Homo sapiens: one gene and its partners. The gene in region 2 interacts genetically with the main gene of each other region. Each region holds a gene or a part of one and is shown on either strand. Other genes may lie near its edges.

Region 1 (3,500 bases), on a different chromosome or scaffold from region 2:
ACCTGGATTCTACCAGTTGTTAACCTTTTCCATATTTGCTTGTATACATTACCCCCTCACCTCCCCCAAATTTTTTTTTTTGAGACGGAGTCTCGCTCTGTCGCCCAAGTTGGAGTGCAGTGGCGCGATCTCGGCTCACTGCAAGCTCCGCCTCCTGGGTTCACACCATTCTCCTGCCTCAGCCTCCCAAGTAGCTGGGACCACAGGCGCCTGCCACCATGCCCGGCTAATTTTTTTGTATTTTTAGTAGAGACGGGGTTTCACCCTGTTAGCTAGGATGGAATTGATCTCCTGACCTCGTGATCCGCCCACCTCGGCCTCCCAAAGTGCTGGGATTTACAGGCATGAGCCACCACACCTGGCCCAAAATTTTTTTCTATTATTTTTATTATTTGAAAGTAAGTCACACACATGATAGCATTTCACCCCAGAATCCTTCTCCAGATGCCTTCTGAGCTCAGAAGCTGTCACCTGTACAACCTCTTCATCATCACATCCGAGATAGCATTAACATTGCATTTTTTTTTTTTTTTTGAGATGGAATCTCGTGCTGTTGCCCAGGCTGGAGTGCAGTAGTGCGATCTTGGCTCACTGCAACCTCCGCCTTCTGGGTTCAAGTGATTCTCCTGCCTCTGCCTCCCAAGTAGCTGGGACTTACAGGTGTGTACCACCAGTCGTGGCTAATTTTTGCATTTTTAGTAGAGGTGGAATTTTATTGTAACGTGGCATTTTCTAATGCAAAGGTGACGTGCAGCCTTCCTCAGTGGTCACCTGTCCTCCTCAAAGCTCTTTCTTGTTCTTCTTTCTTTCTCTCTCTTTTTTTTTTTTAGAGACAGAGTTTTGCTCTGTTGCCCAAACTAGAATGCAGTGGCATGATCATAGCTCACTGCAGCCTTGAACTCCCTTGGGCTCAAGCCATCCTCCAGCCTTAGCCTCCTGAGTAGCTGGGACTATAGGCCTGTGCCACCACACCTGGCTAATTTTTTTTGTTTGAGACGGAGTCTGGCTCTGTTCCCCAGGCTGGAGTGCAGTGGTGTGATGTCGGCTCACTGTAACCTCCGCCTCCTGGGTTCAAGCAATTCTCCTGCTTCAGCTTCATGAGTAGCTAGGATTACAGGCGCCCACCGCCACACTCGGCTAATTTTTATATTTTCAGTAGAGACGGCGTTTTACCATCTTGGCTAGGCTGGTCGCGAACTCCTAATGTCATGATTCACCCGCCTTGGCCTCCCAAAGCGTGAGATTACAGGCGTAAGCCACCATGCCCAGCACTGGCTAATTATAATTTTTAAAATTTTTTGTACAGATGGGGTCTCGCTTTGTTGCCCAGGCTGGTCTTGGACTGGGTTAAAGTGATCCTACCACCTGCTCCTCCCAAAATGCTGGGAATACAGGCATGAGCTACAGCAACCTGGCCAGCATTTCTTAAAATATGAGGGTAGTTGTCTCGTATTTTATATAAATACAGGATTCACAATCTGGATTTGTCTCATTGTTTCCTTGTTAGATTAGGTTCAGGCTAAGTATTTATGGCAAGAATACTGCTTAGGAGATGATGAGCTAAAGGTAACTTTTTTTTTCAAGATGGAGTCTCACTCTGTCACCCAGGCTGGAGTGCAGTGGCGCGATCTCGGCTCACTGCAACCTCTGCCACCCGGGTTCAAGCGATTCTCCTGCCTCAGCCTCCTGAGTAGCTGTGATTACAAGTGCCTACCACTGCGCCCGGCTAATTTTTGTGTTTTTAGTAGAGACGGGGTTTCACCATCTTGGTTAGGCTAATCTTGAACTCCTGACCTCGTGATCTACCCACCTCAGCCTCCCAAAGTGCTTTGAGACAGAGTCTCGCTCTGTCGCCCAGTCTGGAGTGCAGTGGCGCGATCTCGGCTCACTGCAATCTCCACCTCCCCGGTTCAAGCGATTCTCCTGCCTCAGCCTCATGAGTAGCTGGGATTACAGGCTCCTGCCACCATGCTGGGCTAATTTGTGTATTTTTAGTAGAGATGGGGTTTCACCATGTTGGCCAGGCTGGTCTTGAACTCCTGACCTCAAGCCATCTGCCTTGGCCTCCCAAAGTGCTGGGATTACAGGTGTGAACCACCGTGCCCGGCCTTCCTTAGTGGCCCTTCTAACCTTAAGCTGCTTTTCCTTCCTGACAGCGGGGCCCTACTCTCCTGGTCTCTTTCCTGCTTGGGCAAGGTGCCATGAGGCTTTTCCTAGGCCTTGACTTTGCTGTAGCTTCTAAGGTGTCCTGTGGCGGCAAAAGGGACGTGTGCTCTGTGGGTGGGTGCAGCCACCTGTAGAGCTGCAGCTATATCCGCAGGATGGTTGTGTGACTGATGGTCCTTGGGGAGCCCAGCAGTGAGGATCTCAGCAGCCCACCTGTCTCAGAGTCCCCGCTGTGCACCCAGGCCCAGGGCTCAGTGAGTGAGAGCTCTCCGACCTCGGTGGGGGCGGGGCTAATTGACCTTCAGACCCACCGTGTGCCAGTGCTGGCTGGCACACAGCACTGCTTGGACTTCCCCTGTGGGAAAGGATGGGGACAGATCAGTCTTTGGAAGAATGGAGCGCTGGCTTTGCTCAGCCCTGTTCTTGGGAAGGTTTGATCTGGAGAGCCGCAGCAGCCAGACCCTGGGGAGGCAGGTTAGTGAGCAGGCTCCCAACTTACGAGCTAGGAAGGCTGACGGCTGCTCATTTCCCCCCATGTGGACCTCATCAGGGGGTCCTTCCTGAGGGCGAGCGCTAGGTTCGTCTGCGTTTCTCTCTCCCAGTTGGGCCTGACTCTGGACGCCAGGCTGAGGGAGTACACAGCTCCTTCAGAGCACGGGCTCAGACGCTCAGATGCTCGGAGCGCTTCCGGCTGCTTTTCCATGGGTAACTCACATGTTCTTCCTGCAGGCTGGCATTTGTCTTTCATGGCTTTTTTCCATCGGTCAGAATTACAGTCTTTTGATTGTATGTACGTACCTGGTTATTATCAGATATCTAGTTTAAAATGTGCATCTGAATATAGATTTTCTTGGTGAACGCATTGCGTTCTCATTCCGTAAAAAGTCGGAAGCTCAAAATGATGCTTAAAAAAAAATCTTAGCAAGCTCTCCTGTGCAGATGCTGCTGGCGCTGAGCTTTGTGCCTGGGGCAGAAAGGGTGAGGACGGCCCCGGTTGGTTTAGGAAAAGTGGTTATGAACAGAACGGGCCCCATGCTCCTGGCCTGAGGAAATGTTGTGTGAAAAAGATGGCTTCTACAGCTTGAAGGGGGACGGTCCACCTGATGCTCCTGTCCCTCTCTGAGCCCCAGGGGCAGAAGGGAAACAGTCAATAGCACGGCCGTTGCAGATGGTGCCCATAGAGGGAGGGTAGTTAGTGTCTGAGCAGGAGAGGGTGACCGGCCTTTGTGGGGCTGCTTCAGAGAGCCGGGCAGAGTCTGGGCCCCAACGTGGACTAGCAGGGGAGGAGCTCTCCTGGCTGGGGTGGCGACTCGGGGAGGTCTGGGTTGCCTGAG
Region 2 (3,500 bases):
ATCAGCTCAAATTGTCATCAGTGGTGGAACATTTTTTCTTATGTGCTTGCAGAGTTTTATTAAAAAATTATCTTTTGATAAAAGTAATGATACTGGTATCAGAAAGATTGGATGTCATATAGATCTGTGGTTTTTTTTGTTGTTGTTTGTTTGTTTTAGAGACAGGATCTTGCTGTCTCCCAGGCTAAAGGGCAGTGTCACGGTCATAGCTCACTGCAACCTTGAATTCCTAGCCTCAAGTGATCCTCCTACCTCGGCCTTGCAAAGTGTACATCAGTTTGTGTAAGAAAGGTCCAAGAAGTGAACAGGCCTGAAAGTTGAAGAAAGGTACTATAAATGAGAAGAGGTGTATAGAATAAGTCCATTCAAATTTTTGAATTTTTCTTTTTTTTTTTAAGATGGAGTCTCGCTTTGTCGCCCAGGCTGGAGTGCAGTGGCACAATCTTAGCTCACTGCAACTTTCGCCTCCTGGGTTTAAGTGATTCTCCTGCCTCAGCCTCTGGAGTAGCTGGGACTACAGGTGCACATCACTGCACCTGGCTAATTTTTGTATTTTTAGTAGAGAAGGGATTTTGCCATGTTTGCCAGGCTGGTCTTGAACTCCTGACCTCAGGTGATTCTCCTGTCTCAGCTTCCCAAAGTGCTGGGATTACAGGCGTGAGCCACGGTGCCTGGTCTGAATTTTTCTTTTATTCATTTACAACTTAAAAAAAAATGTTTACTGGCTGGGCACGGTGGCTCACACCTGTAATCCCAGCACTTCCAGAGGCCGAGATGGACGGATCACGAGGTCAGGAGATCGAGACCATCCTGGCTAACACGGTGAAACCCTGTCTCTACTAAAAAATACAAAAAATTAGCTGGGCGTGGTGGCGGGCCCCTGTAGTCCTAGCTACTCGGGAGGCTGAGGCAGGAGAATGGCGTGAACTCGGGAGGCGGAGCTTGCAGTGAGCCGAGATAGCACCGCTGCACTCCAGCCTGGGCAACAGAGCGACACTCCGTCTCAAAAAAAAAATGTTTACTGTTTGCCTATCTGTTATAGATGCTAAGATACGAAGTGTAAATCAAATCCCCAGACATTGCAGACATTGCTCTATCATCTGGCATTTGTTGCAGTGGGTGAAGATGGCAGAGGCTACCCTGATTTTTGCTAATTGTAGGTAAACCTTTTTTTTTTTTTTTTTGCCTGCATCTTTTTTTCTTTCTAGTCTTTAAATTAAGATATTCCTGTAGGCTATGTTTAGGCATAAGTTTCTTTCCAGCAGCTTTGTTTTTTTTAGAAACATGGTGAATTCTTTCAATTTATAGGTAAATATTTTAAATCTTTTTTTTTTTCCATCTTAGAACAGTTTTTCAGTTGTACATTTGCTTATGATTGTAGTTCAGAAATTCCAGTTATTTGTAGGTTGGACCTGTGTTCTTTGTCCTTCCATCAAACAATATGCATTATTTTCATCATGGTCTTTTTTCTTTTGTGTGTTTGGAGAGGATCTTATGTGCTTATACACTGAAACACGAATGTGATTTTTTTCCAGCTTCTATACATCTCTCTGTTGCCTTGAATGTAGAATTTTTATCTCTACTGTTACGTGTTTGAATTTCCTTCCAGTTTTTTCTTATCCAGTTTCCTTTTTCATCTCAGCTGTTTTTCCTTCCTCATCTCTTGCTTTTAGAGGTCTTTCCCTTTCTCTTTTTCTTTTTAAAATTGGGAACATAGAGTAGATAATTCCTCGGTTTGATTTCCATATTCCTAGTGTAAGTCCATTACAGGAGCAAGCTTTCCCTCTTCCTGTTTATGGTAGTTCCCCTCTTTTCTTATGCAAGAGCTTCTTAAAGGTCTTGTGTTGTTATTAATGTTTTTGGTTTACTTACCTTGACAAAAGAGGGGCATGTTGACTGGTCAGAGTGACCAAGTGTTCCTTCGTCTCTCTCACTACACTTGGAAGCTGGAGGAATCTTCCTCTTTATGTTAGCTTGGAAAGCAGATGAATGGGTACAACGAAATTTATGAAGGATAGATCATTTTCTATACTTAGGAGAGGTCTTCCTTTCCTAGTGTTGAATCTTTCGGTCCTGTAACTATAATGAGGGGAGTGTTTTTGTGTGATTTGAAATAATTTATAGTTTTTTTTTTTTTAGTTTTTTGGGGTGTTAGTGGTGAGACTGTACTATGCTGAGAGCTCATTCTGTTCCTGCAGCTACCTGTCGCTCGCTGCACAGTACTCAGTGCACCTCAGGGCTTTACCTTCCACATCTGGCCATGCACACTGCACTACTGGGAGAGAACTGCCTTGAAAGAGAATTACCAGTGGAGCTAGAAACCAGGAGGGGAGGGGCAACTCAGGATCTGTTTCTCTGAAGGGAATGGGAGAGAGTGAAATGACCCTCTTTCCCCTGACCTAGTGATAGAGAGGTCAGAGCAAGCCTCAGCTACCAACAGAGATTCCTCATTTCCAGCCAGGTACAGTGTTGCCTCTCATTTAAACTTTGATTTGGAATATGTATTCCAATGGGAAGGCAAGGAGGGAGAATTGAGCCTGCTGGTCATCTGTTGTTAGGACTGATACGACTTCTCTTCTGATGTGTCTCTGTGCTATTTTATTGGATTGCCCAGGGCCATGCCTTCTGTGTCCCACCCAGGCTGCCAAATGTCTTGAAATCCAGGTCTTTTACCAGCCCTGTCAAAGTGATTCATCTTTTGTCTAGGGATCATGCTAATCTTTTAGCATGATTCCCTTTGAAAGTATCCCAGGTGCTAATTAAAAGTAATTATTTTGGGTCTTCAGAATCAGGTTATTTTTCTGGCCAAGGCCTAGGATTCCACATTTGAATTTGCACTGTGGGTGCTTCTTTGCTGTCTAAAATTTGAGGACCACTGCCTAAGGACCTTGCTAGGTAAGTGATTAAATTAATCTGAATCAATTCAAGCCAAATTGCCATAAAAGTAGTGGGTTGATGTTTAACTCTCCTACCTGATAGTGCATGTTTTTTAAAAAAGAGTCTACACTTAGAGTTATAAATAATGTGGAATTGTTGCTAGGAGGGACAAGTATTCAGGAAATTGCCTACTTTATTAGTCAAAAATGATTTTTAATGTTTAAATGTATGCATCGCATGTTCTGTGGTAATCACATTTTTGTAAATGATCTTAAGTTCTGGGAAATTCAGTTATATTTCTTATAGTGTTTTAGTCCTATTATGACTTTGATGTACATTGATTTATAGATTCATCAAATCAACGTCTCCAACTAAAACAATAACAAAGAATTAGTTCTACACACATTAGATTAAAAATCACATTAAACAGTATGGAGAGTGGTAGTGAAAAAATTGTTTTCAATTAAAAAGGATCATTTAAACAATGATTATATACAGTGTTAGAATTCACTAAGGCTGCTTTTCTGGAAAGATATATTTGAACAGCAGCAGAATAAGCTTCTTCTATCCTTCTAGTCTAAGGGCTAACTTACAGTTTGGAAAGACTACCCTCACTTGGAAAA
Region 3 (3,500 bases), on a different chromosome or scaffold from region 2:
ATTTCTTTTTGTTTTTTGTTTTTTTTTTTTTTTTGAGATGGAGTCTCACTCTATCGCCCAGGCTGGAGTGCAGTGGCATGATCTTGGCTCACTGCAACCTCCGCCTCCTGGGTTCAAGCGATTCTCCTGCGTCAGCCTCCTGAGTGGCTGGGATAACAGGCACATGCCACCATACCTGGCTAATTTTTGTATTTTTAGTAGAGACGGGGTTTCACCATATTGGTCAGGCTGGTCTCAAACTCCTGACCTTGTGATCTGCCTGCCTCAGCCTCCCAAAGTGCTGGGATTACAGGCGTGAGCCACCGCGCCTGGCCCCGAGATGGACTTCTAAGAGCCTGGTGCCTCCTCTCGCTCCTGGCACCTCTCCTCTTCCTGAATTCCTCCCTGCCGAGCTCTGCAGATCTGGATGCTGCTTCCTCACCCAGCTGTGCAGTGTGAACGTGGTACAGGACATCTTGATCTGCTCAGGATCCTGACTTTTGTCTTATGGGCAATCTTGCTTCCTGAGGCAGAAGGATCATTTGAGCCCAGGAGTTCAAGACCAGCCTGGGTAACATAGTGAGACCTCATCTCTCCAAAAAATTCAAAACATGAGGCAAGAAGATCACTTGAGCTCAAGAGGTTGAGGCTGCAACGGGCTCTGATAGCGCTACTGCACTCCCGCCTCGATGACAGAGACCCTGCCTCAAAAAAATAAATAAATAAATAAATAATTTTTAAAACCTGCAAATCTTTAACAGCCATTGAGCCTATGACACCCTATGGGCATTTCCTGTCATGGGTGCTGGTACAGGTCTGACCTTGATGACAGCCTGTCTTCCCTGGGGAAGGACCCAGTTCCACAACTGTTGCGGTCTGTGCTTCTTGCCACAAAGGTAACAGAGTAGAACTGGGGTTGTCCCTTGGCCTGCCCTTGGAAGGCTAGGAGGTTCTCTGTGTACAAGTGACCCAGGTCCCTGAAGGAAGCACTTCATGACCCTATGAAGAGGGCTTCTGCCTGGCACCCACTCCATCCCATCCTCAGTCACACTTGATTGGAGTACATTTCAGAACAAGCCTCCTGCTTATCCCCTCCTTCTGGCTGAATGGGCAGTCGGCAGTCTTCATTCAGCCAGGCCTGGTTAGAAATCCCCTTGACTGTGTGTTTCTGTATGGAATAGATGGCCTACTGCCAGCATATTGGGGTGGAGTTCATGTTCATCAATGACCTGGAGCAGTGCCAGTGGATCCGGCAGAAGTTTGAGACCCCTGGGATCATGCAGTTCACAAATGAGGAGAAACGGACCCTGCTGGCCAGGCTTGTGCGGTCCACCAGGTATGGGTCTGGCCCTGGGCCATGGGGCAGACATTCCCAGGGAAGCAGTGACCCTGTCTGTGTTGATCGGGCCTGTGTGCAGCCTGTTGGCCGAGGTGAGAGGGGGTTTGGGGTGGTACAGGCAAAGCTCCATCTGCACATGTGTGAAGAGACACCAGACAAGTAGAGTCAGCCTTCAGAGCAACCTCCGCCTCCTGAATTCAAGTGATTCTCTTGCCTCAGCCTCCTGAGTAGCAGGGATTACAGAGGCACACCACCACGGCTGGCTAATTTTTATATTTTTAGTAGAGATGAGGTTTCACCGTGTTGGCCAGGCTGGTCTCGAACTCCTGACCTCAGCTGATCTGCCCACCTCGGCCTCCCAAGGTGCTGGGATTACAGGTGTGAGCCTCCATGCCTGGCCAGAATCCCCTCTTTTTGGTCAGGAAGAGTGACATTGCCCTTCAAGGTGGCTTGGTTCCCTGTCCAGGTTTGAGGAGTTCCTACAGCGGAAGTGGTCCTCTGAGAAGCGCTTTGGTCTAGAAGGCTGCGAGGTACTGATCCCTGCCCTCAAGACCATCATTGACAAGTCTAGTGAGAATGGCGTGGACTACGTGATCATGGGCATGCCACACAGGTACAGCCAAGGGCGCGCCCAACCTGGTTTCTCACCATCCCTGTGGGCTGTGTAGGAGGCACCAGGTAAAGGCACTGAGAGAGCAGCTGTTTCCTCCTTGAGTGCCAGTTGTGAGTCTGGGCTCATCTGGTACCTGAGGGTGTATTGCTTTGCAGGGGATTCTCACATTGCCTGCCTCTGGAGGACTGCAAAGTCATGGTCACCTCCAAAGCCACATGTAGTTTCAGACTGGCATTTGGCCTTACAGTGCATCTTTATGAAAATTAAACCCAAGTTCCCTTGTTGGGGTCTAACCTGGAGGGAAGGCTGCTTCCTGACATTGAAGGGGAGGCCAAGACTGTGAAAATAGGGAAGGTGTGGGGAGGGAGAAGGGTAAGGAAGCCTCAGGCCCATGGCATTGCTGCATCTTCTATCTTTCTGCTGCCCACTGTGGCCTTGATTGCCCAGCACGGAGAGGCTCGGTTCCCACATTAGCTCCAGTTTACAGCTATCCTTGGGCTGCAAACCGAGGAGGTGCCGTGTCCTGGGGGGAGGGGGAGGGGGGGATTGTAACACCCTCATCTGCCATCTGGAAACCATGACCTCAGGCTCTGCTCACCCTACTCGCCCATACGTTCCAGAGGGCGGCTGAACGTGCTTGCAAATGTCATCAGGAAGGAGCTGGAACAGATCTTCTGTCAATTCGATTCAAAGCTGGAGGCAGCTGATGAGGTGAGGCACCTGCATAGAGACACATCCAGCATAGCCCCAACTTACACAAGACCCCTGGCTCCACTTCTTTCTTAGAATGACTTACGGGGGGTTGGTTCTTCTGTACCATTTGTGATTTGCCTTCCTTGTTGGGAGAATTTTAGTGTTGGGACAAAGGTGGCCAGTGGCCCACCTCCTGGTCAGAGGTCCAGCAGCCCCACTCTGAGTGCAGGGGTGTGTCCCCTCTGGCTGAGGGACGTTCTCCTTATGCCCTGGATGGGAATGATCCTGGGAAAAGGCCTCCATATCCTTCTGCGTTGGGTTCCTGGGAGTAGAAATCCCATATAAGGCTGGGCATGGTGGCTCACATCCGTAACCCCAACACTTTGGGAGGCTGAGGCAGGCGGATCACGTGAGGTCGAGAGTTTGAGACCAGCCTGACCAACATGGAGAAACCCCATCTCTACTAAAAATACAAAATTAGCCGGGCGTGGTGGCGCATGCCTGTAATCCCAGCTACTCGGGAGGCTGAGGCAGGAGAATCGCTTGAACCCAGAAAGTGGAGGTTGCAGTGAGCCGAGATCGCGCCATTGCACTCCAACCTGGGCAACAAGAGCGAAACTCCATCTCAAAAAAAAAAAAAAAATTCCCGTATAAAAGGGCTCTTTTGGAGACTGAGCATCTCCTTGGCCAGGGTGCAAATTCACTGTTTACCCCATCAGGGCTCCGGAGATGTGAAGTACCACCTGGGCATGTATCACCGCAGGATCAATCGTGTCACCGACAGGAACATTACCTTGTCCTTGGTGGCCAACCCTTCCCACCTTGAGGCCGCTGACCCCGTGGTGATGGGCAAGACCAAAGCCGAACAGTTTTACT
Region 4 (4,063 bases), on a different chromosome or scaffold from region 2:
CGTGAAATCCTAGCACTTCGGGAGGTTGGGGCGGGCGGATTGGGTAATTCCAGCCTGACTAACATGGTGTGAAAAATCCCGTCTTCACTAAAAAACCAAAAGAAAAGTGAATCAGGCCTGGTGGCGGGCGCTCTAGCCTGAGAGACAGAGCAAGATTCCATCTCAAAAAATAAATAAATCTTCGCGTTAGATAAAGGGTTTACTTGTAAACTGGTAATTTGTTGCTTTTCTGTGTTAATCTCTAGGTAAAGTAGCGACTTCCCTCTCCTATTTACGCATGCGCTATTACTGTATTTCTACTGAGCGATGACTTTCTCTGCGTTTCTCATGTAGCATAGCACAGAGTACTTTTAGTTGTTTTTGTTTTTTTTTTTTGAGACGGAGTCTCTGACGCCCAGGCTGGAGTGCAGTGGCGCAATCTCGGCTCACTGCAAGCTCCTCCTCCCGGGTTCACGCCATTCTCCTGCCTCAGCCTCCGGAGTAGCTGGGACTACAGGCGCCCGCCACCACGCCCGGCTAGTTTTGTTTTTGTATGTTTAGTAGAGACGGGGATTCACCGTGTTAGCCAAGATGGTCTCGATCTCCTGACCTCATGATCCGCCCGCCTCGGCCTCCCAAAGTGCTGGGATTACAGGCGTGAGCCACCGCGCCTCGCTGTCCGCCTCTTGAAGAGTAAACGAGGCCGGGCGCGGTGGTTTAGTAATACCAGCTGTAATCCCAGCTACTTGGGAGGCTGAGGCAGAAGAATCGCTTGAACCCGGGAGGCGGAGGTTGAGGTGAGAGGAGATCGCGCCATTGCACTCCAGCCTGGGCAACAAGGGCGAAGTTCTCTCAAAAGAAAAAAAAAATCGTCGGTTTCCTTTTCCCATCTTTCTTTCGTGACTTATATTCCAGAACGAAGCCCCACACATCATTAATGATTTGAATCGTTTCTAAAGTGTTTCTTAAATCGTTTCTTAAATCGTTTGTTGTTTCTTGTCTAACAGTCCAGAACACATATTACATAATGGAGCCGGGAGACAGACTAGGGCTGGCTTGATCCGGCCACGCAGTCCAGGAAAGGTGCTTTTCACCCCCAAGTGCAAAATGATCAATGTATTCTTCCGATCTACATAAACAAGCACCTCCTGGTTTCATTTTCGTAAAGCAAAACAAGCATGGAAGCTTTACTGTTTCGGCTCTTCAAACTTCCAGCAACTACACTGCGCTGCATCGGACTCGACGCCCGCTGGTGACGCACACGCTGCGCCGGAAGTGTGAACTGTCTGCCTCCAGGCTTTGTCATGGCGGCTGCTGCTGCACGCTGGAACCATGTGTGGGTCGGCACCGAGACTGGGATCTTGAAAGGTGGGTGGCAGGCTCGGGCGTCGGGAAGTGCAGGGGTGCACTCGCGCCCCTGGCGTGACTGACGCCTTCGTCTCTCAGGGGTAAATCTTCAGCGAAAACAGGCGGCGAACTTCACGGCCGGAGGACAGCCGCGGCGCGAGGAGGCAGTGAGCGCCCTGTGTTGGGGCACCGGCGGCGAGACCCAGGTGAGTGGCCCCTGGTCGGGCCGGAGCTGGGGGCCTGGGGCGCAGCAGCCTCGCTCTCCTCGCCATCTTGCCCTTCTTTGCCGCAGATGCTGGTGGGCTGCGCGGACAGGACGGTGAAGCACTTCAGCACCGAGGATGGCATATTCCAGGGTCAGAGACACTGCCCGGGCGGGGAGGGCATGTTCCGTGGCCTCGCCCAGGCCGACGGGTAAGACCAATCCCCTCGCTAAACTCAGGGCCGAAGGGAGAGCGTTGATGCTCCCTGAGGATACTGGAATGATGGCGACAGGCAAACTCTTAGTGACACGGCTTTGAATGGGTGACAGGGACCTGGGTTTCTGCCTTATGTAGTTCATACCTGTAACACACATTTATTGAACACCTACTGAATTCCAGGCACTGGGAGAAGTACAGGGGCTGCCGGTAAAATTTCTGCCTTCAAAAAGTTCTCATCCTCTAAGGTTTTTCACCTGACTCCATTATAATCCTCTAAGTAACCATGGGCAAGTCATTTAATAGTTTTGTGTGTGTGTGTGTTTGTTTTTTGTTTTTTTTTTTTTTGGAGACGGAGTTTTCGCTCTTGTTGCCCAGGCTGGAGTGCAGTGGCGCGATCTCGGCTCACTGCAACCTCCGCCTCCCGGGTTCAAGCGATACTCCTGCCTCAGCCTCCCAAGTACCTGGGATTACAGGCGTCTGCCACCACGCGCGGCTATTTTTGTATCTTTAGTAGAGACGGGGTTTCACCGTATTGGCTAGGCTGGTCTCGAACTCCTGACCTCAGGTGATCCACCTGCCTCGGACTCCCAAAGTGCTGGGATTACAGGCGTGAGCCACTGTGCCTGCTTGTCATTTAATAGTTTTAAGCAAGGCTGGGTGTGGTGGCTCATGCCTGTCATCCCAGCACTTTGGAAGGCCGAGATAGGTGGATCACTTGAGGTCAGGAGTTCAAGACCAGCCTGGCCAGCACGGTAAAACCCCTTCTCTACTAAAAAAATACAAAAATTATCCGGGTGTGGTGGCTCATGCCTGTAATCCCAGCTACTTGGGAGGCCGAGGCTGGAGAATCGCTTGAATCCGTCCCGCAGAGGTTGCAGTGAGCAGAGATCGCACCAGTGCACTCCAGTCTGTGAAACAGAGCAAGACTCCATCTCAAAAAAAACAACAAAAAAAGTTTTAAGCATGCATTCATTAATTCATTATTAATTCATTTATATTTTTTGAGACAGAGCCTCACTGTGTCACCTAGGCTTGAGTGCAGTGGTGCATTCATGGCTCACTACAGCCTCAACCTCCCGGGGTCAAACGATCCTCCCGCCTCAACCTCCTGAGTACCTGGGACCACAGGCAGGTGTCACCCTGCCCAGCTAAATTTTTAAGTTTTTTATAGAGATGGGGTCTCACTGTGTGCCCAGGCCAGTCTCAAACTCCTGGGCTCAACTTGAGCTCAACCACCAACAAGGTGATGTAGCTCTGAAAGCAAAGATTAGGAAGGTGCTAAGTGGTTGGATGACTGGCCTTGCTTTCTTCCAAAGATGATGAAAGAGGGCTGTGAAGCAGGCTGCATAGGTTTGGTGGTGGTAATTCTGACAGGTGAGGTCTGGAAAGCCTGTGGGGGGGACTGGATGTCTGAACTGGTTCTTGAGGGATGGGTAGAATTTTGACTGGTGGAGAAGGGGATAAGGGTATTCTAGAAAGAGGGTACTGCCTGGGAGAGGCCAAGGACTGGAGGCATGCTACAGGGTACATAAATAGGATAAATAGCATTTGATTTGGAAGTTGATAACAAGGAAGCGTTTTTTTTTTTTTGTTTTTTGTTTTTTTTTTATATACGGAGTCTCACTCTGTTGCCCAGGCTGGAGTGCAGTGGCACAGTCTCGGCTCACTGCAACTTCTGCCTCCCAGGCTCAAGCGATTCTCTTGCCTCAGCCTCCTGAGTAGCTGGGATTACAGGCATCCGCCACCACGCCCAGCTAAGTTTTTTTTGTATTTTTATTAGAGACAGGGTTTCACTATGTTGGCCAGGCTAGTCTGGAACTCCTGACCTCAGGCAATCCGCCCACCTCAGCCTCCCAAAATGCTGGGATTACAGGCGTGAACCACTGCACCCGGCCAAGGAAGCATTTTAATACAAGATGAACACTATATTAGGTTGGGATTAAATGTAAAGGGCTTTAAGTGCTAGGTTGAGAGATGTGCACTTTTATTGGTGTTGGTGAGTTATTCATTTATTGTTTTTGTTTTTCTGAGAGACGGAGTCTTGCTCTGTCACTGAGGCTGAAGTGCAGTGGCATGATCTCGGCTCACTGCAACCTCCACCTCCCTGGTTCAGGCGATTCTCCTGCCTCAACTTCCCAAGTAGCTAGGACTACAGGCATGTACCACCACACCCAGCTAATTTTTGTATTTTTTAGTAGAGACAAGATTTCACTATATGTTGGCCAGGCTGGTCTGGAACTCCTGACCTCAGGTGATCTGCCTGCCTTGGCCTCCCAAAGTGCTGGGATTATAGGCGTGAGCCACTGTGCCTGGCC
Region 5 (3,500 bases), on a different chromosome or scaffold from region 2:
TGGATTTGTCTCCTAGGTCTGGCTTTAGACTCTTGGGACCTAGACTTCTACACCAAGCGCTTCCAGGAGCTACAGCGGAACCCGAGCACTGTGGAGGCCTTTGACTTGGCGCAGTCCAATAGGTGAGGAGAAATGGGGTTGTTCCCATACCTGAGCCCATGGGTGTTGGGAGAGACCACAGGGGCTCACCTTCATGTTCCTCCCTTGGCTTAGGGGCCTCCCTGAGTCTCTGAGGGCCTGGGCTCCCGTCATCCATCAAGGAGTCTACATTCAAATCTTGGTTTTATCTTCACTTTGGCTCTGGATAGTCCAAAATGACAGAATACTTGAAGATTATGACTTTTTGGAATATATTTTGATCTGTCATCTAAGTATGAATTTGGCTGTAACTCTGCTGTTAAATGCTGGTGAGAAGACATGGCATTAAGAAATGACCCCGTTTCCACCTGCCTTCCCCTCCCTGCATCGCCCCCTGCAGCGAGCACAGCCGACACTGGTTCTTCAAGGGCCAGCTCCACGTGGATGGGCAGAAGCTGGTGCACTCACTGTTTGAGTCCATCATGAGCACCCAGGAATCCTCGAACCCCAACAACGTCCTCAAATTCTGTGATAACAGCAGGTGCTGTGCCCTAGACTGGGTTGGCGTCAGGACCCGGGGAGGGGAGGCCCCAGGCCCTGGTTGGGTTAGTGTAGGTCCCAGAAAGGAAGCAAGGTCCATGACGGGTATGTCCACAGTGCAATCCAGGGAAAGGAAGTCCGATTCCTACGGCCTGAGGACCCCACACGGCCAAGCCGCTTCCAGCAACAGCAAGGGCTGAGACATGTTGTCTTCACAGCAGAGACTCACAACTTTCCCACAGGTGAGCTGGGTTCCCTGGAGAAATAGGTGAGATCACAGAATAGGGTAGGGCAAAGGTCCCAGGCCCCTGGAGTGGGCCTGGGGAAAATAATCAGGGAAATTGGTTGTCCTTATTTTCAGTGGGGGTGGTCAGAGATGGGGGTTTGTCTCTGAGGCACCCAGACCTCTCCCCACTCTCTCTTTGCAGGAGTATGCCCCTTTAGTGGTGCAACCACTGGCACAGGGGGCCGGATTCGAGATGTCCAGTGCACAGGCCGCGGGGCCCACGTGGTGGCTGGCACTGCCGGCTATTGCTTTGGAAATCTGCATATTCCAGGTTCCATCTCCTTCCTCTCTATCCACCTTCCCTTCCAGATTCCTTGTCCTGGCAGGCAGCAAACTTCTATCTGTTAGGTCCATAGGGTTATCCTGTGTGCCTTTTCTCAGGAGGAAGGGCTCTAGGATAGCTGGCCTTTCACTAACTATGGTCATAAGTGTAGACCTGGGGAGATGAGGTGGCCAGACTGCTTTTGCAGGTCTACGATTTTCTTTAAAAACTAGCCTTCATTCAGCCAGAAAGCATGATATTGGGTTGGTCTTATGATCAGTACCTGCCCCTCAAATCTGGTTTCTTAGCCTGAGAAACTTGGCTGGGCGTGGTGGCTCACGCCTGTAATCCCAGCACTTTGGGAGGCTGAGGTGGGCGGATCACAAGGTCAGGAGATCAAAACCATCCTGGCTAACACGGTGAAACCCCGTCTCTACTAAAAATACAAAAAATTAGCTGGGCGTGGTGGCGGGCGCCTATAGTCCCAGCTACTCAGGAGGCTGAGGCGAGAGAATGGCGTGAACCCGGGAGGCGGAGCTTTCAGTGAGCCAAGATCACGCCACTGCACGCTAGCCTGGGTGATAGAGCGAGACTCCATCTCAAAAAAAAAAACAGAAAGCCTGTGTAACTCTGATTGCGAGATTCAGAGGGAAGGCTGGTGTGGGTGGTGGAAAGAAGACCAGTGCCTCACTGCAGGCTCTAGGGCTTCCTAAAGCAGGACTTCCTGAAGTGGAACATTGCAACCATGCAGGTGGTCCTTGGTGGCCTTGACTCTTCCTGAAGGATGCAGGCTGCTCCGGCCTGTCTTCACAGTTCATTCAGTTCATCCAGTTCTCTCTCCTTCCCTCCCAGGTTACAATCTGCCCTGGGAGGATCCAAGCTTCCAGTATCCTGGGAATTTTGCCCGGCCCCTGGAGGTTGCCATTGAAGCCAGTAATGGAGCTTCTGACTATGGCAACAAGTTTGGGGAACCAGTGCTGGCTGGTGAGGCTGGGGTGTGGAGGGATGACAAACACCCAGAGGGGCTTGTGGGTGGGGTGTGCGACCCAGGGGCTGTGCTATTGGGCGAGCACTGGGGGAACTGAGTGACAGGTCCCTCTGATGTTCACACTCCAGGCTTCGCCCGCTCCTTGGGCCTCCAGCTCCCAGACGGCCAGCGGCGTGAGTGGATCAAGCCCATCATGTTTAGTGGGGGCATTGGGTCCATGGAAGCTGACCACATAAGCAAGGAGGCCCCAGAGCCAGGTAAGAGCCTGCCACCTTTCTCTGGATCCAGCCAGCTTTCTCCCCAGCACAGGATGGCTACAGGGAGGGAACTTAGGGAACACTTCAGTGGTTAGTTTTTAATATGTTGGCTTATCTTATGTGTCACATAATGATGGACAACTCATTCTGAGAAATGTGGCTATTAGGTAATTTCATTATTGTGCCCACTTCATAGACTGTACATACACAAACCTAGATGGCATAGCCTGCTACACGATCCACACAGCCTCTTACTGGCAATATTATCCAGGAATTTTGTACACTTGGGAGCCATGATGAACAAAACAGCATGAGAATAAAATAAGCACAAGAGAAAATAATGCAATCAAGACGTGGTGGGCCAGGCAGGGTGGCTCGCACCTGTAATCTCAGCACTTTGGGAGACTGAGACAGGTGGATCACCTGAGATCAGGAGTTCAAGACCAGCCTGACCAACATGCTGAAACCCTGTTGCTACTAAAAACACAAAAATTAGCCAGGCATCTGCCGGGCATGGTGGCTCATGCCTGTAATCCCAACACTTTGGGAGGCTGAGGTGGGCAGATCACGAGGTCAGGAGATCGAGACCATCCTGGCTAACACGGTGAAACCCCGTCTCTACTAAAAAAATAAAAAAATTAGCCAGGTGTGGTGGCGGGCACCTGTAGTCCCAGCTACTCGGAGGCTGAGGCAGGAGAATGACGTGAACCCAGGAGGTGGAGCTTGCAGTGAGCTGAGATCCCACCACTGCACTCCAGCCTGGGCGACAGATGGAGACTCCATCTCAAAAAAAAAAAAAAAAAAATTACCCAGGCGTCATGGTGCATGCCTATAGTCCCAGCCTCCTGAGGCACAAGAACCACTTGAAGCTGGGAGGTGGAGGTTGCAGTGAGTGGAGATCGCACCACTGCGATCGCACCACTGTCAAAAAAAAAAAAAAAGACGTGGTAAATATGAGATAATATGAAGCTACTGTCAATGTAACATGGCATACCGTTTTTAGGTAAACTTTTTTTTCTCTTTTTTGTTAATTATTATTATTTTTAATCTGCATTTTCTTTCTCAAGTCAGATTTTTTTTCTCTTTTTA
Region 6 (3,500 bases), on a different chromosome or scaffold from region 2:
CTCAATGTGTGAGGTTTCCTGATTTAATTTAGGTTATGCATTTTTGGTGACAATGCCACAGAAGTGATGCTATGCCCTTCTCAATGCATTATATCAGGTGGCATGTGTTGCGGCTATGTCACATTGATGGTGATAACTTTGTTCACTTGGTTAAAGTGCTGTCAGCTTTCTGCTTTGTAAAGTTGTAGTTTTTCCTTTGTAATTAATAAGTATCTTGTGGGGAGATTCTTTCCAAATATTCTTTTTTTTGTCATACATTCACTTATTAATTTTAACATCCATGGATGGTTTTTGCCAGTAATAATTATGCCTGTGATATTTGCCAAGTGGTGGTTTTGGTAGACTTTTATAAGTGAATATTTATACTTGTAAATAACATTTTGTGCATGTAGGATGAATGCCGAGAAAACTGGTTCTTAACCTTACATAATATGTTGTTGGCAGTATAGATTTACTTGTACCATTGATTATTCTGTTTTCCCAAAATTTTCATTTGTGATGACAACAGAAATAAACACACATTGATGTACAATTATAAATATCATTGTCTAATACTGTTCTAATATTAATATTTTAAAGTCTACTGTTAGCAGACTTGGCCGATGGATTGACTTTGACAATGACTATAAAACTCTGTATCCACAATTCATGGAATCAGTCTGGTAGGTTTATTTAAAATTGTAAATATGGTAAATATTCTATTCTGTTGTATTGATAATTGGAAAAATGCACTAGCATGAATCAGTTTATTTTTGAGTCCATCGTTATTTCTCTGAAAATCTTTGGGAACAGGTTTGTTTTTGAATGTAGAACTTTTATTTTTATTTTTTTGAGACTGAGTCTCGCTCAGTTGCCCAGGCTGGAGGGCAGTGGCACAGTCTTGGCCCACTGCAACCTCCGCCTCTCAGGTTCAAGCGATTCTCTTGCTTCAGCCTCCCAAGTAGCTGGGATTACAGGCGCCCGCCACCATGCTTGGCTAATTTTTGTCTTTTTAGTAGAGATGGGGTTTCACCTTGTTGGCCAGGGTGGTCTCGAACTTCTGACCTAGGTGATCCATCCACCTTGATCTCTCAAAGTGCTACGATTACAGACGTGAGCCACTGCGCCCAGCCTGCCAGTTGCTTTTCTTAACATTATGTGTTAAATATCATTCGATATCAGTAGATATTAGCATTTTAATGTCTGCCTGATGTCTTACTATATTGATCTGTTATAATTTACCAGCCAGTCTCCCAATGAAAGACATTGTTTTTTCACTTATTTGGCAGACAGAAACTCTAAAAAGAAAATGGCATAAATGTTTGCATTTTCAGAAATAGAATTTTGTTCTGTAATTGTGAAACTCCATCTCTTACCAGGTGGGTCTTCAAACAACTCTATGATAAAGGCCTTGTTTATAGAGGTGTGAAAGTCATGCCCTTCTCTACGGCATGTAACACTCCACTTTCCAACTTCGAGTCACACCAGAATTATAAGGTACGTGAAATGTAGAGACATTATTCAGCATTGAGTTTTGTAGGTGGAAGCTGAGTAGTTATGATCACAGTAGGTATTCCCAAGTAGACCCAGTGTGGAATGTTGCCCACGACATCCACCACTTTGACCACTTCTTACTGAGTGCTGGAAATATTGCCAGTTAGTATACTAAGGCTCTGTTAAGATGAGGGATTTTTTTTCCACATTGGATTTATGATGTGTCTTAATGTGATAGGTTTTGCTTGTTTTGACCATATTTTTGTGCCTCTCTGTTGGGTTAACAAGTCCAGCTTTGACATACTTCCTGTAGTCATCGTTTCTTAAGGGTTGAGTAATTTTATGCCTTATCTGGGACCTCATGATATCATTTATTTGTTAACGGTATTTGGAAAAAAATTAATTTGAGATGCCAAATGGTATTATTTTTCCTCTGATGAGATAGAATCAGTTGTTGTTGTTGCTATGATTGAGGTGTTTAGACATGTTTGATGTTTACAGAGTGTATTGTTATACCATATCTAGACAGATATTATATACTAGTAAGTCTTCTGAAATGTGAACCATCTCTTCTCGTGTGTATACTGAGTTGTTTTCAGTTTTGAGAGTTTATCTGACCCTCTGTTTTTAAAGGATGTTGACTTGTTTGGAATTCTTGTTTCATGGCCTAGGTTTGAAAATTACATTAGTAAAATTTGCCTTTCAAAGCACGTTTTATTTATAGAATGCTTTCACATATCCTGTTTGATTGATCTTTGTAAATCCTTGTAAGGCAGGTATGATGATTTCTATTATCTCCTTACCACCTCTCTGTGCTCATGTTTGTATTTTTTTAGTAAAATATTTTAAGCACTTAACAATGTAGAGAATGATATGGTAAACACAAGGTTTCCAAGGCTTACCTTTGTCAAATCTTAATATATTGCTATATTTGGTTTTTGTTTGTTTGTTTGTTTGAGTCAGAGTCTTGCTCTGTCGCCCAGGCTAGAGTGCAGTGGCGCGATCTTGGCTCCCTGCAACCTCCACCTACCCGATTCAAGCAGTTCTTTGCCTCAGCCTCTGGAGTAGCTGGGTTTACAGGTGCCCACCACCACGCATTTTTAGTAGAGACAGGGTTTCACCATTTTGGCCAGGCTGGTCTTGAACTCCTGACCTTGCGATCCACCCACCTTGGCCTCCCAAAGTGTTGGAATTACAGTTGTGAGCCATTGCGCCCGGCCTGTTTGGTTGTTTTTTAAAACACTTGAATGTGGACAGTTTCAGGGACATGCAAAAGTAAACAGAATGGTATAATTAATTTCTGTAGGCCCATTAAGGCCCCCAGCACCAATGACTGGCTAATCTTGCCTCATTCATACACATATTCTTTCCCACTTTCCTTCCAATTCTGAAACAAATTCCAGATATCATATTATTTCATCAAGAAATAATCCAGTATAGATCTTTCATAAATAATCTTTATCTTCTTTAAACATTGCCATGTTAGCATTCGTTGTCACACCTTAAAAAGTCATCAGCAGTTACCTTTTTGTTGTTGTTGTTGTTTTTGAGATAGGATCTCGCTATGTCACCCAGGCTAGAGTGCAGTGGCACGATCTCGGCTAACCACAGCCTTGACCTCCCGGGCTCAAGTGATCTCCCCTTTCAGCCCCCTGAGTAGCTGGGACTACAGGAACATACCACCATACCTGGCTAATTTATGTGTTTCTATAGGAGTGGTTTCACCATGTTGCCTGGGCTGGTCTTGAACTCTTGGGCTCAAGCAGTCCACCCGCCTTGGCCTCCCAAAGTGCTGGGATTACAGGTGTCAGCCACTGCACCTAGCCACCTTTAATAGTTTTTATTTTAATATTCTCAAATTATGTAATTCCTGAACATCATCAGTTCATATTTCTAATGGTTTAATCATTTCCCAAGGGGTTATATTTTATTTTTATTTATTTATTTTTTTAAATCAGGATCTACCAAGACTTAAACACATGGTGACTGTTGTCTTTTAGGTCTTGTACACGTTTCAGTTGGTTATA
Region 7 (3,500 bases), on a different chromosome or scaffold from region 2:
CAGAAAATCTTAGAACAGAAGGAGAAAAAGAGCCAGGTACACCCCACTCGGGCAGGGTCTGCAAGTGGCTCTCCAGCATAGAGAGAGATGGGGGGTCTCTCTCCTCCTGAGGGTGTCTCTGTGGTGCAACTAATAGAACTTTCTGGAATGAGGAAAATTCCAGTGCATGGTCCAGTGCGGTAGCCACTAACCACATATTGCTGTTGAGCACTTGAAATGCAGCTACTATGGCAGAGGAACTGAACTGAACTGTTCCGGAGAATGTCAAACTTTTTTCCTTGTTTTTTCTTCTTTTTTTTTTTTTAATTTAAATTTAATTTTTTTTTCTTTTTTGTTTTGTTCCCCCACCCCCGACATCTTTTCTGGCTCTACCAAACCTTAAAAAAATTTTTTTTTTTTGAGATGGAGTCTTGCTCTGTTGCCCAGGCTGGAGTGCAGTGAAATGATCTTGGGTTCTCCTGGTATCAAGTGATTCTCCTGCCTCAGCCTCCTGTGTAGCTGGGATTACAGGCGCGTGCCACCACGTCAGGCTATTTTTTTTTTTTTTTTTTGTATTTTTAGTAGAGGCGGGGTTTCATCATGTTAGCCAGGATGATCTTGATATCCTGACCTCGTGATCCGCCCGCCTCGGCCTCCCAAAGTGCTGGGATTACAGGCGTGAACCACCATGCCCAGCCAACCTTAATTTTTTCATAGAGGAAAAAAGTTTGTCATGGGAAATTCAAACATTTGCAAGGGAAATTCAAACATTTGCAAGAGTAAAGAGAACAGTATGATGAACTCCCATGTGCCCATCGCCAGCTCCAACATTGATCAGCCCCTGGTCAATCTTGGATTATCTCCACTGCTGGTCACTTTCCCACCTCTGGGTCATTTTGAAGCAAATCCCACATACAGTGAATCTGTACTAGTTTCCTGGGGATGTCATACAAATGACCACAAACTGAGGGGCTTAGGACAATAGAAATTTGTTCCTTCCCAGCTTAGGAGGCCAGAAGTCCGAGATCAAGGTATTGGCAGGGCGGTGCTCCTCACTGGGCTCAGGGGAGGGTCATTCCTGGCCTCTTCCTGCTCCTGGCGGCTCCAGGCGTTCCCTTGGCTTGTGGCTGCGTCACTCCAATCTCTGCCTCCCTCTTCCCTCGGCCTTTCCTCCGTGTGTCTCTTCGAAGGGCGCTTCTCATTGGATTTAGGTCGCGCTCAGATACTCAGGATCATCTCATCTTGAGATCCTTCACGTAATTACGTAATTACATCTACAAAACCTTTTTCCAAATAGGGTCACGTTCGCAAGTTCTGGGATACGAACACGTCTTTGAGGGAGGCTGCCATTTAACCCACTATACATAGCATTATATCCATAAATATTTCAATTTGTATCTCTATAAGTAGAGACTTTTAAAAATGACCAGAATACCATTAGCACACCTAATCTTTTATTTTAATATCAAACATCTAGCAAGTGGTTAAATTTCCTGTTGTTTCATGGATACTCCTCACCCTTTTCTTGTTTTTTTTTCCCATTGTAGTTTATTTGTTGTTTGTCTTACAGTTTCCTACCTTCTGGATTTTTAAATTTTTATTTTATTTTATTATTTTTTGAGATGGAGTTTTGCTCTTGTTGCCCAGGCTGGAGTGCAATGGCATGATCTCGGCGCACCGCAACCTCCACCTCCCGGGTTCAAGTGATTCTCCTGCCTCAGCCTCCCGAGTAGCTGGGATTACAGGCATGCACCACCACGTCCGGCTAACTTTGTTATTTTTAATAGAGACAGGGTTTCTCCATGTTGGTCAGGCTGGTCTTGAACTCCCAACCTGAAGTGACCCACCTGCCTCGGCCTCCCCGAGTGCAGGGATTATAGGCGTGAGCCACTGCGCCCAGCCTTAAAATTTTATTTTAAACATGCTCCTCTGCCATCTGAGCTTTTTGTACATTAGTATTTGGATCTGTAGCAGTGACTGTCATCCGGAACAGTTTTGCGCGCCGCCCCCCGCTGCCCCAGGGACATTTGGCAGTGTCTTGAGACATTTTGGGCTGTGACAACTTGGGAGTGCTGCTGGCATCTGGCGGGTGGAGCCATGGGATGCTGTTAACAGCCTATAATGCACAGAAAAACAAAAACTTATTTGGCCCTAAATGTCAATAGTGCTGAGATTGAGGAACCCTGACCTGGAGCCTTCATGAGAATCAAGTTTGACTTTTGGTGAGGCCACTGCACGTGGGAGCTGTGTCTTCACATCAGGAGGCTTGAGGGTCTCTCTCCAGCAGCCGTGGATGGGCAGTCCCCAGAGCCTTGGTAGGGGGAAGACTTACTCACCTGTGAGCGTGTTCTTTTTTTTTTTTTTTTTGGAGACAAGGTCTTGCTCTGTTGCCCAGGCTGGAGTGCAGTGGTATGATCTCAGCTCACTGCAACCTCTGCCTCCCAGGTTCAAGCCATTGTCCTGCCTCAGCCTCCCGGGTAGCTGGTACCACAAGCATGCGCCACCATGCCCGGCTAATTTTTGTATTTTTAGTAGAGACATGGTTTCACCATGTTGGTTAGGTTGGTCTTGAACTCCTGACCTCAGGTGATCCACCCGCCTCGGCCTCCTAAAGTGCTGAGATTGCAGGCGTGAGCCACTGTGCCTGGTCAGTGTGTCCTTTTTAAATCCTATTTAGGGTGCTTTCCCGCTGTGCTATACCTTGTTCTGTGTGTGTGTGTGTGTGTGTGTGTGTAATACACACATAGAAGTGTGTAGGCTGGGCGCGGTGGCTCACGCTTGTAATCCCAGAACTTTGGGAGGCCGAGGCGGGCAGATCATGAGGTCAGGAGATCGAGACCACGGTGAAACCCCGTCTCTACTAAAAATACAAAAAATTAGCCAGGCATGGTGGCGGGCGCCTGTAGTCCCAGCTACTTGGAGAGGCTGAGGCAGGAGAATGGCGTGAACCCAGGAGGCAGAGCTTGCAGTGAGCCAAGATCGCACCACTGCACTCCAGCCTGGGTGACAGAGCGACACTCTGTCTCAAAAGAAGTGTGTATAAAACCTATATGTACAGTTACAAGAACAATAAAGTAAAAACTCACGAAACCCTCACCCAACTAAAAGAAGCCAACTGGGTACACCCCCTGCACACAGCATTGCTCAGGGTAGCTCGGGGACCAATTCACATCAGACACACAAAGCCGCCTCCTTCCTCAGAGCAGCTAGGGAGCACTGCTGTACATGACTGAACTGTGCTTTATTCATCTCCTGTTGATGGACATCTGGTGGGCCATAATCTTCTACTGTGATACCCTGCTGCAGAGAACCTCATTTATACAACCCCAGATTCTGTAAAAGGGGTTAAAAAAGCCAGCTTGCTGTGTCTGTTGATGGAAGAACACCATGCACCAGTAGAATTGCAATTTGACCGCCGATTTTAAAGACTCCAGGTGTTAATGATGCTGAAATTTTATTACAGTCTCACTTCCCTTCTTAAGAGAGGGTCGTGATGGCAAATGCATAATACACTCGTTTCC

What was found.
Region 1: of ATG10 (region 2) and PDPK1, changing one suppresses a phenotype caused by changing the other (phenotypic suppression), as found in Homo sapiens cells (one large-scale study listed by BioGRID).
Region 3: of ATG10 (region 2) and OGDH, changing one enhances a phenotype caused by changing the other (phenotypic enhancement), as found in Homo sapiens cells (one large-scale study listed by BioGRID).
Region 4: of ATG10 (region 2) and WDR74, changing one suppresses a phenotype caused by changing the other (phenotypic suppression), as found in Homo sapiens cells (one large-scale study listed by BioGRID).
Region 5: of ATG10 (region 2) and PFAS, changing one suppresses a phenotype caused by changing the other (phenotypic suppression), as found in Homo sapiens cells (one large-scale study listed by BioGRID).
Region 6: of ATG10 (region 2) and IARS1, changing one suppresses a phenotype caused by changing the other (phenotypic suppression), as found in Homo sapiens cells (one large-scale study listed by BioGRID).
Region 7: of ATG10 (region 2) and DHX37, changing one suppresses a phenotype caused by changing the other (phenotypic suppression), as found in Homo sapiens cells (one large-scale study listed by BioGRID).

Annotation. Positions count from the first base shown.
Region 1 is NC_000016.10:2,544,521-2,548,020, forward strand, and holds part of PDPK1 (3-phosphoinositide-dependent protein kinase 1), read left to right. Parts: intron 1-2,307; exon of another isoform or gene 2,308-3,500. UniProt on the Homo sapiens protein: Serine/threonine kinase which acts as a master kinase, phosphorylating and activating a subgroup of the AGC family of protein kinases.
Region 2 is NC_000005.10:81,978,523-81,982,022, forward strand, and holds part of ATG10 (ubiquitin-like-conjugating enzyme ATG10), read left to right. Parts: exon of another isoform or gene 1-327; intron 328-977; exon of another isoform or gene 978-1,156; intron 1,157-2,385; exon of another isoform or gene 2,386-2,895; intron 2,896-3,500. UniProt on the Homo sapiens protein: E2-like enzyme involved in autophagy. Acts as an E2-like enzyme that catalyzes the conjugation of ATG12 to ATG5. ATG12 conjugation to ATG5 is required for autophagy. Likely serves as an ATG5-recognition molecule. Not involved in ATG12 conjugation to ATG3.
Region 3 is NC_000007.14:44,672,627-44,676,126, forward strand, and holds part of OGDH (2-oxoglutarate dehydrogenase complex component E1 isoform 1 precursor), read left to right. Parts: intron 1-1,160; coding exon 1,161-1,315; intron 1,316-1,784; coding exon 1,785-1,931; intron 1,932-2,551; coding exon 2,552-2,642; intron 2,643-3,343; coding exon 3,344-3,500. UniProt on the Homo sapiens protein: 2-oxoglutarate dehydrogenase (E1o) component of the 2-oxoglutarate dehydrogenase complex (OGDHC). Participates in the first step, rate limiting for the overall conversion of 2-oxoglutarate to succinyl-CoA and CO(2) catalyzed by the whole OGDHC.
Region 4 is NC_000011.10:62,836,791-62,840,853, reverse strand, and holds the start of WDR74 (WD repeat-containing protein 74), read left to right. Parts: upstream 1-1,263; 5' UTR 1,264-1,283; coding exon 1,284-1,347; intron 1,348-1,425; coding exon 1,426-1,532; intron 1,533-1,618; coding exon 1,619-1,740; intron 1,741-2,754; exon of another isoform or gene 2,755-2,876; intron 2,877-3,434; exon of another isoform or gene 3,435-3,903; intron 3,904-4,063. UniProt on the Homo sapiens protein: Regulatory protein of the MTREX-exosome complex involved in the synthesis of the 60S ribosomal subunit. Participates in an early cleavage of the pre-rRNA processing pathway in cooperation with NVL.
Region 5 is NC_000017.11:8,255,789-8,259,288, forward strand, and holds part of PFAS (phosphoribosylformylglycinamidine synthase), read left to right. Parts: intron 1-16; coding exon 17-122; intron 123-478; coding exon 479-619; intron 620-735; coding exon 736-860; intron 861-1,046; coding exon 1,047-1,175; intron 1,176-2,018; coding exon 2,019-2,150; intron 2,151-2,282; coding exon 2,283-2,411; intron 2,412-3,500. UniProt on the Homo sapiens protein: Phosphoribosylformylglycinamidine synthase involved in the purines biosynthetic pathway. Catalyzes the ATP-dependent conversion of formylglycinamide ribonucleotide (FGAR) and glutamine to yield formylglycinamidine ribonucleotide (FGAM) and glutamate.
Region 6 is NC_000009.12:92,283,698-92,287,197, reverse strand, and holds part of IARS1 (isoleucine--tRNA ligase, cytoplasmic), read left to right. Parts: intron 1-579; coding exon 580-662; intron 663-1,358; coding exon 1,359-1,476; intron 1,477-3,500. UniProt on the Homo sapiens protein: Catalyzes the specific attachment of an amino acid to its cognate tRNA in a 2 step reaction: the amino acid (AA) is first activated by ATP to form AA-AMP and then transferred to the acceptor end of the tRNA.
Region 7 is NC_000012.12:124,982,632-124,986,131, reverse strand, and holds part of DHX37 (probable ATP-dependent RNA helicase DHX37), read left to right. Parts: coding exon 1-36; intron 37-3,500. UniProt on the Homo sapiens protein: ATP-binding RNA helicase that plays a role in maturation of the small ribosomal subunit in ribosome biogenesis. Required for the release of the U3 snoRNP from pre-ribosomal particles.